Homo sapiens: one gene and its partners. The protein of the gene in region 3 interacts with the protein of the main gene of each other region in a pairwise test. Each region holds a gene or a part of one and is shown on either strand. Other genes may lie near its edges.

Evidence for each region.
Region 1: the proteins of CYBRD1 (region 3) and GOSR2 interact in binary tests that used the Homo sapiens proteins (3 or more experiments, as listed by UniProt).
Region 2: the proteins of CYBRD1 (region 3) and HMOX1 interact in binary tests that used the Homo sapiens proteins (3 or more experiments, as listed by UniProt).

What each region holds. Positions count from the first base shown.
Region 1 is NC_000017.11:46,933,139-46,936,889, reverse strand, and holds part of GOSR2 (Golgi SNAP receptor complex member 2), read right to left. Parts: intron 1,862-3,751; coding exon 1,721-1,861; coding exon of another isoform or gene 1,610-1,720; exon of another isoform or gene 68-1,609; intron 1-67. UniProt on the Homo sapiens protein: Involved in transport of proteins from the cis/medial-Golgi to the trans-Golgi network.
Region 2 is NC_000022.11:35,390,960-35,394,710, reverse strand, and holds the end of HMOX1 (heme oxygenase 1), read right to left. Parts: intron 1,244-3,751; coding exon 1,113-1,243; 3' UTR 504-1,112; downstream 1-503.
Region 3 is NC_000002.12:171,553,374-171,557,124, reverse strand, and holds part of CYBRD1 (plasma membrane ascorbate-dependent reductase CYBRD1), read right to left. Parts: coding exon 3,625-3,751; intron 2,602-3,624; coding exon 2,298-2,601; 3' UTR 1-2,297. UniProt on the Homo sapiens protein: Plasma membrane reductase that uses cytoplasmic ascorbate as an electron donor to reduce extracellular Fe(3+) into Fe(2+).

The DNA of each region.
Region 1 (3,751 bases), on a different chromosome or scaffold from region 3:
AAAATCTACATTCTGCCCAGAAAGCAATTAAGAAGCCTCAGCCAGAGAAATTACAAGTCAAACTTCATTGCCATCAGAGATCAGAGAAATGTATTTGTATTTTTTTTTCCCCGAGATAGTGACAATACAATCAGACTCTTGCTAAAGTCCTGCTTGGCTCTGAACACACAGATTATTTCATCACTGTATGAGGCTAAGGATCAACCTTCTAAATCACTTGAAAATGACCATAAATTTCAAAAAATGTATTCATTTTCAGCCACAAATTGGCCCCAGTCATCAGAGTGCTTCAGCCTAGCCCCTTCATGCCCTCTCCTATGTTCCTTTTGAATGGTGTAGGTGGAAAATCCCGACGGAGGCAGGGTGTGAGGCAGGTGGAGGGAATCAAGAGACAAACACCAGGTAGCCACAGGTGTGCAGAGGAAAGTTAGAAACCTCAAGTCTCAACCCCCAGCCACCTCACAGCCTTCCCCTCTGGTATCAGTGTGGGTGGCAAGAGGTGTGCTGATGCCCCAGCGCTGCCAGACTTGAGTGGGAAGTTAGCATGTGCCTTAACAGGACGCTCTAACCCCCACTGGCTCTTCATCAGTGTGACATGGAGTTTGGTCCTAAAAGGCCTCTACTGTTTTTCTGAGATATGAAAAGGAGAGTAGCAGTTTTCTAAAGAAAGGGCAGACTAATCAACATGTATCAGTTCAGGTCACTGCAGGTGGCTCTCATGAAAGGGGAGCGCCCAGCAGGCTGCTGGAGACCACCCTTCCAGGCCATCTGAGACACTGCAACTGTCAGCAGGAGGTGAGTGTCACTTGCAGCTTGCCTGACCCTCTCCCCCGTAGAGATGGCAGGGACTGTTCAGAAACGTACTGAAGTCCTGTGGAGCTGACAGACTCAACATGATCCAACAAAAACTAAGATAAAGCTCACACTTCCGAGTGACTGTTTCTCACAGCTCAGTGGCTGGGAGTGCTTCATTCACAGGGGACCACACCCTGATAACAGACAGAACCCACGCCCTATTATCCATCAGGGTTGATACAGGAAAAGGGCAGAGGCTGAAACATCATGACTGACATCAGAGTCTGTGTAATGTTTCTGTAAACCACTCCCAGGGGCTGGAGTCTCAGCAGTGCCAACTGGTCAGGGCTTCTAGGAATACCTAAGGCTAGGGAGTGAAGAGTCGCTGGGATCACCAGCACGGGCTTTAGAAGCTCTAGAAGCTTCTAAAGCTCTAATCTACTGCAAACAACCAGGCAGCCCTAACACTGCACAGTGGGGATTCAGTTACTAAAATACAAAAGGTTTTAGTTATAAGGCAGTCCACAGTAGGGGTCCTAAGGGAAAGCCACCTTAAAGCGAGGTACCAAAGGACAGCCACGTCTTCATTCTTCCAAGAGTAGATTCTGTAACACAATTTCTCAGCCTGTGATTGGACCCCTCGTAGTAGCACTCACTTTCATGATAAGTTCAGTAAATGGGAAAAGACCTGGATCCTAAGAGAGGCCACTTCATGGTTTGTTTCAAGCACTGGCAAAGGAACTGGGTACTTTCAGGCTCACAATAACTCAACTCCAACAGAAAGGATCCCAAACTCAAGGGCTCTGTCTTGTCATCAAAATATCACAATTTGAGGACACGTAATCAAAATATAAACACAGTTACTAAACTGTTGGATGAGGCTAAAACAAGAGGCCTTCTCTCTGTCCCCCAGCAGGGACCCCACCTTCAAGGTCAGTCTCTGGGTCCTCAGTCCATCTAAAATATTGTGCCCATCTAAAATGAGGTCATCCATGCCGTTGTGAACTTTCTGGAGGGAGGAGTTAAACTGCAGTGATTCGTCCATTGGTATGGTGGTGTCAGAGTCCTGTGAAAGAAACACAGGCACTTGATTAACTTTGCTTATCAGTCAGTTCCTGGGGTCTCACTGCTCTGTCTTTTGGCCAAGGCCAAGCCAGAACAGCCGGAGGGGCTGGTGAAAGAATCAGCGGACCCTAATGGATAAGAAAAAGCAAAGCAAAGGCCTGGGGTGGCCTCTGTCCACACAGAAGAGGAACTTCCTCAGATCTGTCACTCTCCAAATGAGTTCCACTCCACAAGTATCGTTCATTCCAACGATACTTGTCTCTGTATCATGATCTCCTCTTAGGAAAAGCTATTCCTTCAAGACCTCATTGGGTGTCTCCTAAAGGCTTTCTCTGACTACTCACTAACCTAGCTGGTTCCAAATGTTCCTTTCCATGGCTTCCCCTTAATGCAGTGTTAAATGTTTGCTCGTGTCCTTTAGCTATTTTATCTATAGTTTACCTCTCCAAGTAGACTGAGAGTTAACTAAGGATAGAGGAGGCTGTGCTTCTGCATTTTCTTTTTTTTTGAGACAGGGTTTCCCTCTGTCACCCAGGGTGGAGTGCAGTGGCGCGATCTCAGCTCACTGCAACCTTAGCCTCCTGGACTCAAACAATTCTCCCACCTCAGCCTTCTGAGTAGCTGGGACCATAGGTGCATGCTACCATGCCCAGCTTTTTTCTTTCTTTCTTTCTCTTTTTTGTATTTTTGGTAGAGACAGGGTTTCACCATGTTGCTCAGGCTGGTCTCCAACTCCTGTGCTCAAGGAATCTGTCCACAGGCCTCCCCATTTTATAGATGAAAAAATGCCCAGAGAGGTAGAATAACTTGTCCAAGATCACACAGCTGGAAGTGTGTCCAGTGATCACAGAGCTGGAAGTCCAGTGGAGCTGGGAATGTGGGTACTGAGCGCAGGGCCTGCCCTGTTACCCACACTGTAGAGGGAAACACCAACGCCCATCCTGGTGGCTCTACTTTTGCTCTGAAAGTGGACTATAGGCAGGAGCCAAGTCCTCGCCAGCTGTGAGAGCGTTCCCTTCTCTTTTCTGCCAATCACAAGCTCTCCTGCCAAGTAGTGCTGGGGTTTGTTTCGTGTTTTTTTTTTTTTTGAGACAGGCTCTCACTCTGTCACCCAGGATAGAGAGCAGCCTTGACCTACCAGGCTTAAGTGATCTTCTCACCTCAGGCTCCAGAGAGTAGTTGGGACCACAGGCTCACGCCACCACGCCCGGCTAATTTTTATATTTTTTTGTAGAGACAATGTCTCACCATGTCACCCAGGATGGTGAACTCCTGAACAATCCACTGCCTTGGTCTCCCAAAGTGCTGGGATCACAGGCGTGTGTCATTGTGCCCTGCTCCACTAGTGCTGTTTTTACCACCTAAATTCCAGTTTCAATTGTCCAAAAAAAAAAAAAAGGTTATGCCACTGTTTCTTTGCTGCTCAGATTTGGAATCATTTTGCACATACGTGTTTTCAACTGCCCCTGCTAACAGGGGAGCTCCTCACAGATAGGCGTCAGGTCTTTTAATTTCATCATGTGCTTTACTCCTAGTGCCTGAATTAACTAGTTTTCTGCATGCAGCTAATGCCCAGTGTGTCAGAAGATGCTGGCGTTTGAAAGACTCAGAGACTTCTCTTCAGTAATTTGACTAGCACTTATGAAATGCCATTCACATACAAATCTTTCTTACCCTCCCATCTAAAACAGTATGGCTGATGGGCCATTATCTCTCAGAAAAATGTATTATAGCTCCATATGGTAGAATGACCAGGAAGAAGTTTCATCTGGCAAGTCAATGTTTATTAAGAACTGACGGTGTGCACAGCATCACGCCAGGCTGGCAAAAAACAAAATAATCCCAAGCGATCATCCTTGGCCTAAAAAAGGCCTGAATACTACATTATAAC
Region 2 (3,751 bases), on a different chromosome or scaffold from region 3:
GCATCAAGCAGGGTTCAACACAAATATTCGCCCACCAGCTACTTAAAGCTCACCTCCTGGGCCAGGCACGGTGGCTCACGCCTGTAATCCCAGCACCTTGGGAAGCTGAGGCAGGTGGACCAGCTGAGGTCGGGAGTTCGAGACCAGCCTGGCCAACATGGGGAAACCCCATCTCTACTAAAAATACAAAAATTAGCTGGGCATGGTGATGAACTTCTGTAATCCCAGCTACTCAGGAGGCTGAGGCAGGAGAATTGATTGAACCTGGGAGGTGGAGCTTGCAGTGAACCAAGATCACGCCACTGCACTCCAGCCTGGGTGACAGAGTGAGACTCCATCTCAAAAAAAAAAAAAAAGAAAAGAAAAGCTCACCTTCTGTATTCTCAAACAGACCAGCTCCTGCCAACCCCCTATCACCACTTCTCCTACCGAGCACGCAAGAAACCAGGGAGGAAAAGGTCAGTTCCCCAAGAATAACAAAGCCCATGAAAACTACTTCAAGCTACTATCAGACAATGTTGTTTATTATTTCACACAAAAGTTAGACCAAGGCCACAGTGCCGTTAAACACCTCCCTCCCCACCCACGCATGGCTCAAAAACCACCCCAACCCTGCTATAAAAACAACAGAACACAACAAAAATACTGCATTTGAGGCTGAGCCAGGAACAGAGTGGCTCCAACAAAAATAAGACAAAAACACAAGACACAACATCTTTTCAGGTTTGTGTAAAAATTGCCATGGCCCACGGGGAAAGTGGTCATGGCCGTGTCAACAAGGATACTTGAAACTCAGGGCTTTTGGAGGTTTGAGACAGCTGCCACATTAGGGTGTCTTCCAGGCTCTGCTGCAGGAACTGAGGATGCTGAAGGGCAGGGCTGATCCCTTCGCCCCCTCTGAAGTTTAGGCCATTGCCTGGATGTGCTTTTCGTTGGGGAAGATGCCATAGGCTCCTTCCTCCTTTCCAGAGAGAGGGACACAGTGAGAGGGCTGGAGGCCCTGAAAGCCTTCAGTGCCCACGGTAAGGAAGCCAGCCAAGAGAATTCCCTCTCTAGAAAGAAGGCCTTCCACCGGACAAAGTTCATGGCCCTGGGAGCCAGCATGCCTGCATTCACATGGCATAAAGCCCTACAGCAACTGTCGCCACCAGAAAGCTGAGTGTAAGGACCCATCGGAGAAGCGGAGCCTGGGAGCGGGTGTTGAGTGGGGGCTTCCCTCTGGGAGTCTCCACGGGGGCAGAATCTGAAAGAGAAAATGGGGCAAGGTCATTAACAGGTGGGCGTGCATCAGGGTGTCTGATGTCATAGGAAAGCAAAGCAGAGCGGCCTCAGGGTCTGTGGTACAGTCACTGCCCAACGCCAGGATTCTGCAAGACCACAGACAGGTGTCCCTCTAGCCACTGCTTGAATACCTTCAAAGACGGGCAGCTCACTACTTCTTCAAGCTGTCTGTTCTTCCCTGTGCAGCCAGGCCACATTGTGAAAACATTCTTGGGCCCAGGCGTGGTTTTCAGACTTCTGCCTGCTCCCTGTCCTCTCCTTAAACTTTGCCAGCAATTAGGTCTGAGCTGTAAATCTTCCTCTCAAACTCACACGTTTGCTAAGCATGGTGATGATGGGGCAGGAGCTAGAAAGCAGGAGCTCTGAGGTCAAAATTCAAGTTCAGTCCCATCCCTGGTTATTAAAATGTGATAGGGCCGGGCGCAGTGGCTCACGCCTGTAATCCCAGCACTTTGGGAGGCCAAGGCAGGTGGATCACGAGGTCAGGAGTTCAAGACCAGCCTGGCCAATATGGTGAAACCCCGTCTCTACTAAAAATACAAAAAATTAGCCGGGTATGGTTGCGAGTGCCAGTAATCCCAGCTACTCGGGAGGCTGAGGCAGAGAATTGCTTGAACCCAGGAGGCAGAGGTTGCAGTGAGCCAAGATTGCGCCACTGTACTCCAGCCTGGGCAACAGAGTGAGACTCCATTTCAAAAAAAAAAAAAAAAAAGATTTAAAACATGATAGGCCAGAGCCAACCATGCAACCTGGGTAGATGTGCCACCTGCCTCCTCAGGCACAGAGTGGGTGCTCCCTAGGTCTTTAGAAGCAGGACAGAGTCCAGGGCAGGTCTCTGGAGCCAGACCAGCTGGGTTTCAATCCTAGCCCCGCCCTGGGCTATGAGAAGGGCTTCCCCAGAGAAAACAGGGCCTTAGGTCTGGTGGCCCAGGGCTGCGGTCACAGGAAGTACAAGCAAGCAAGCAAGCAAGCAGGTACACTGTGACATTTACATGTGTGTTGTTCATATTAAAGGCTCCTGCTCCTTCTGATGCATTAGGGGTGCAGTTCTCAAATGTTTTGGTTCCAAAACTCCTTTATACTCAAATGCAACCAAGGATCCAAAAGAGCTTTTGTTTGTGTGAGTATAGCTATCACTATTTACAAAATTAGATATTAAAACTGAGAAATTCTTTTTCTTTTCTTTTCTTTCTTTTTTTTTTTTTTTTGAGATGGAGTCTCGCTGTCGCCCAGGATGGAGTACAGTGGTGCAATCTCGGCTCACTGCAACCTCTGCCTCCCGGACTTAGGAGATTCTCCTGCCTCAGCCTCCCGAGTAGCTGGGATTACAGGTGTGCACCATCACACCCAGCTAATTTTTATATTTTAGTAGAGATGGGGTCTCACCACATTGGCCAGGTTGGTCTCAAACTCCTTACCTCAAGTGATCCCCGTGCCTCAGCCTCCCAAAGTGCTGGGATTACAGGCATGAGCCATCGTGCCCGGCCAAAACTGAGAAATTCTTAACATACAAGAACATACAGGCACACATTCCATGAGCCATCAAATCCATGAGAGAGCATCACATGTCACATAACCTTTGGAAAATGCCAACACACATTCATGAGAAAGTGAAACTCTAATTTTCTCATTTATTTTTGGCTTTTTTAAAAAAAGCCAAAAAAAAAAAAAATCTGGGTGTGGTGGCACGTGCCTATAGTCCCAGTTACTCAGGAGGCTGAGGTGGGAGAATCCCTTGAACCTGGGAGGTTGAAGCTGCAGTGAGCTGTGATTGTGCCACTACACTCCAGACTGGGTGAAAGAGCGAGACCCTGTCTCAAAAAAAAAAAAAAAAAAAAAAAAAGGCCGGGCGCGGTGGCTCACACCTGTAATTACAGCACTTTGGGAGGCCGAGGCGGGCGGATCACAAGGTCAGGAGATCGAGACCATCCTGGCTAACACAGTGAAACCCCGTCTCTACTAAAAATACAAAAAATTAGCCAGGCATGGTGGCGGGCACCTGTAGTCCCAGCTACTCGGGAGGCTGAGGCAGGAGAATGGCGTGAACCTGGGAGGCGGAGCTTGCAGTGAGCCGAGATCATGCCACTGCACTCCAGCCTGGGTGACAGCAAGACTGTCTCAAACGAAAAAAAAAAAACCAAAAAAATAGTAGTAGTGTTATAAAAATGCTTTGTCCTCACAGACCCCGTTGAGGGGATACTAGGATTACCACCTCCCACAGCCAGGGTACCACACTTTGAGAACTGCTTCATTAGGGTGACGTCTCCCTACCCCACCAAATAGCCAAGCCCTCCGGGGTTACAAACCCCTAGCAGAGGGGTCCGTGTGGTCTGGCACAAGTGAGAAAGCCACAAGCCAGGTAGGTTAGGGTGGCACAGGAGGGGAGGCCTAATATAACCTGCCAGGAGGTAGCTAAGCCTTACCTCTTTATTGCTACCCATCCCAAAGCCACACTCCCTCCCTCAGTGTT
Region 3 (3,751 bases):
TAAAGATAGAAAAGAAATTCCTATAATATCTGTAAGATTATCCTCACATTAGCCCACATGAAAGATAAAATAAAGGGCTGAGATGGGGGGTGCTTAAATACTTTGCAACAGTGCTATTCTAGTGCCAAAGCCATAATTAACTTTTCACTGATAACCTGTTTCTTAGCCTATACAAAAAGGAATGGCCACCTCAATTCTGGCGGCTTAGTCACTATCTAATCCCTTCCTCCAAAAACCCTGGAATTTTGTGTTCCTCTATGTAATGGAACATCCAACTTATCAAATGATGTGTGACTATGCAACTACTCCTTCTATGGCACCAAGACTGTACCATGCTCCACCCATACTGAATTTAATTGTGCTACCACTTTGTGCCAGGCAGAGGGCTGGGTACTGGGGATCCTTCTGGCTCTATTACCAATTTTGGAAATAGAATTTAGTAGAGAAGAAGAGAACAGTGTTGCAGCAAGGGGATCTTGAATGGTTTTTCATGAAGTTTAAGGGATATGATGGAGTGTGGCTTGTATTCAGTCTTTGGAAGTAAGTACCAGTTACCTAAAAAGAAATCCACTAAGCACCAAAATGTTTAGTGTATTTGGTGTAGAGTTTCTACCCATATTAAAATGCTTCAGTTTAAAATTGAAGGGAAGGCAAAAAAATCAACCAAAAAATGAAAAGTATCATTTCAGCATAAGCACTACTCTAGGTTTTAATTTGTCAGCCCAGATCCCAGACAGAGATGATACTCCAAACATGAAAAGTCACCTCCAAGTCTCAATTCACTACTGAGAACCCAAAGCTCAAAATATCCCCTAAAATTCCATAAAAATCAGGAAAGACCCTAGCTATTGCCCCAGGGAAGGGCAGACCATGAGACAGGTCTCTTTTAGCTCCAAACTGAAAGTTGTTCAGCAGCTAAAATCCTGAAGAAAAAAATATTGCAATTAATTAACTTGAAAGCTACAGATATGCCTGTCCAAATCTTTTGTTACCAAGACACAATTTTAAGATCAAACAAGTGTCAAGGTAGGCCATGGCTTGTTGGCAGTAGTAGGGGCCCTATGGCCTATTTCCAGGTATGGGTGGCCCCTTTTCCTTGGTTATCTGGGGAATCTGCCACAGCAAACAGCAAAAGGTAAAAAGCATCCCTTTAATAACTACACCCCACTCCAGCAATTGAGGTTTATTCAGGGGTGGGTCAAAGTAGTACAAGACAAAAATAGCTTAGTGAAATGGTTAGAATCCAGACTGAGGTGCCAGACTGCCTGCATCTGAGTCTCAGTCCCACCATGTATGAGCCGTGTGACCTTGGGGTGAGTTACTAGCCTCCCCAGGCTTCAAATCTCTCACCTGTAAAATGGGAACAGTAACAATACCTACTTCATCCCGTCTGTCTGGGGACTGAATGAGCTAATATGTGTAAAGTGCTTAGAGGAGTGTTTGGAGCATAGTAAGTGCTGTGTGAGTACTTTCAAAAATAAAAACAAGAACTTGGGGAAAAGTGCTCTCTGAGGTTTGTAGGGCAGTGTATGCTACTTAAGTGTTGAAGCATATTTTCATTCTAAGAAGTTTAGCATCTGGATCATAAAGTACATCAACCCTAGGGAAGTCTTGGGGCTAACTTCAGTTTTGGAAATTCTTCCAAGTCTGACCAGAGAAGATCTCTTCAACCACCTGCTCTAATCTATCAATACCCTAACATAAACCCTAGTCTCCAGGGACAATTTGAGCCCAAACCAGCTGGGGAGGGAGCAGAAGGCAGGCATGGGGAGAAAGGAACCAGGTGCTTTCCTAAATTTCTTTAATATACTCTCATCATGGTATCTGTGTAGAGTCATGATCTAAACCCTGTCCCAGATATTCCTTATCGGATTTTAAACTTTTAGGACTGCTTCCCGCTAGTTGTGAAATCATTGTCTCCCAGAATTAACAGGAAATGACTGCATGACAACAGGCCAGGGATGCTGCCAGTTTATCCAATTAACTACTAGTAGACACATATTCACATATTGAGTATCTATTCTGCACAAGGCACCGTGCTAATGTTGTGGTCCTCAACAAGATAAAGGTAACATAACCACAATTTATATCTGCTATTATTTATATTAATCACATCCTTTCCAATTCAGGTCAGTTCATAGGCCTCAATCAATACAAATTATTTCAAGAAACCATCCTTTGTGATTAAAGTAAATATTGATACTACATAGCCCAATTATCATATGGCTAATAGGAGAAGCAAAACTGTAGAGCTAGTTTTGAAACGTGACGTTATATGGCTCTATCTCTACAACATTTTACATGGTAGATCTCTGCCCAGCCTCATCCAGAGCTAAGTTTCTTTTCCTTGCTGCTACTTCACTGTTTAACTCTGAATCTGATTTGTCCATGTTGTTGCCAGAGTAGGCTGGCATGGAACCTCTTGCTCCCTGTTCAGTGCCTCCATTTGGATGAAGAATGGTAGAATTTGGCTCCTTAGGACGTTTCCATTGCGGTCTGGTGACTATCCAAAAAATGAGGGCCCCGAACACCAGGATCAGAAGGCCAAGCGTATTTACGAAAACACCTTCTGGCGGGAATGTACTGTATGCAGGATCTCTCCTATGAAATAAGAGATGTATCCAATTACAAACAGGATGATACAGCAACATGCAAAACAGTCTTGAATTTATCTGCTCAAAATGCACACTAGTACAGTTTCAATGTAAACTCTCAAAGCTTGCTATTAAGGAGAAATATAAATTATGCTACAATTCACTCGGGAATATATAATGAAATTGATTTAAAAATAATAAATATGAAAATAATATAGCATCTGTAACACTTGTTTTAAGGCAGGTAGGGTCTGGAGGCAGGCAACCTCAGGTCAATTCACACGGACTTCCTAGAACTAAACCAAAAGGAAAACCCCAACTTTCCACATCTAAGTAGCAAAAGGACCCGAGGCTACTCCCTTTGCAAACCCCGCTTTTCTGCATGGCGGATGGAAAATTGAAAGTATCTCTGATTGGTTGCTTTCTACAACCAATCAAACTGACTGCAGGCCACCACTTCATTTACATGCAGTGAACACCAACTGGCCAATGGGAAACCTCTAGGGGCTATTTGGACCCAAGAAGATTCCCTATCGGGCCGTTGAGTGGCTGCTCAGGCCACTCCCGCCCTGTGGAGTGTACTTTCATTTTCAGTAACTCTCTGCTTTTGTTGCTTCATTCTTTACTTGCTTTGTTTGTGTGTTTTGTCCACTTCTTTGTTCAAAACGCCAAGAACCTGGACACCCTCCACCAGTAACAGTTATCACTTAAAATTTTTAAAAAGGATGAAACAAAAATGTATGTACACTATAATTACAATTAATATAAAAACATGCATATCAACAAGATTGAAAGGGAATGTATAACTTCAATAGTTGTTTCATAAGAGTAATACAATTTGTCAGACTTTTTGGTCCTTCTAAACTTTTAGTAATATCATATTACCTATATGATATAACAAATTCTTTAAAATATTTTTTAATTTTAATATCTAAAAAATTTTGTTATATTTTTATTACATTTTCCCAGTGAACAAGTATTTAACATTTTGTGGCTTAAGTATTACAATTAAGAAGACTATGCAACTTACAGGGAAAAAATCAGTTTCTCTGTCAATCCCATAAGTGCTGTTGCAATCACTGTTCCAAAGATGACAATTCCAGAATAAACATGTATGGGCATGAGAAATGCTCGGAGAGAAAGCGGAGCCCATGGAA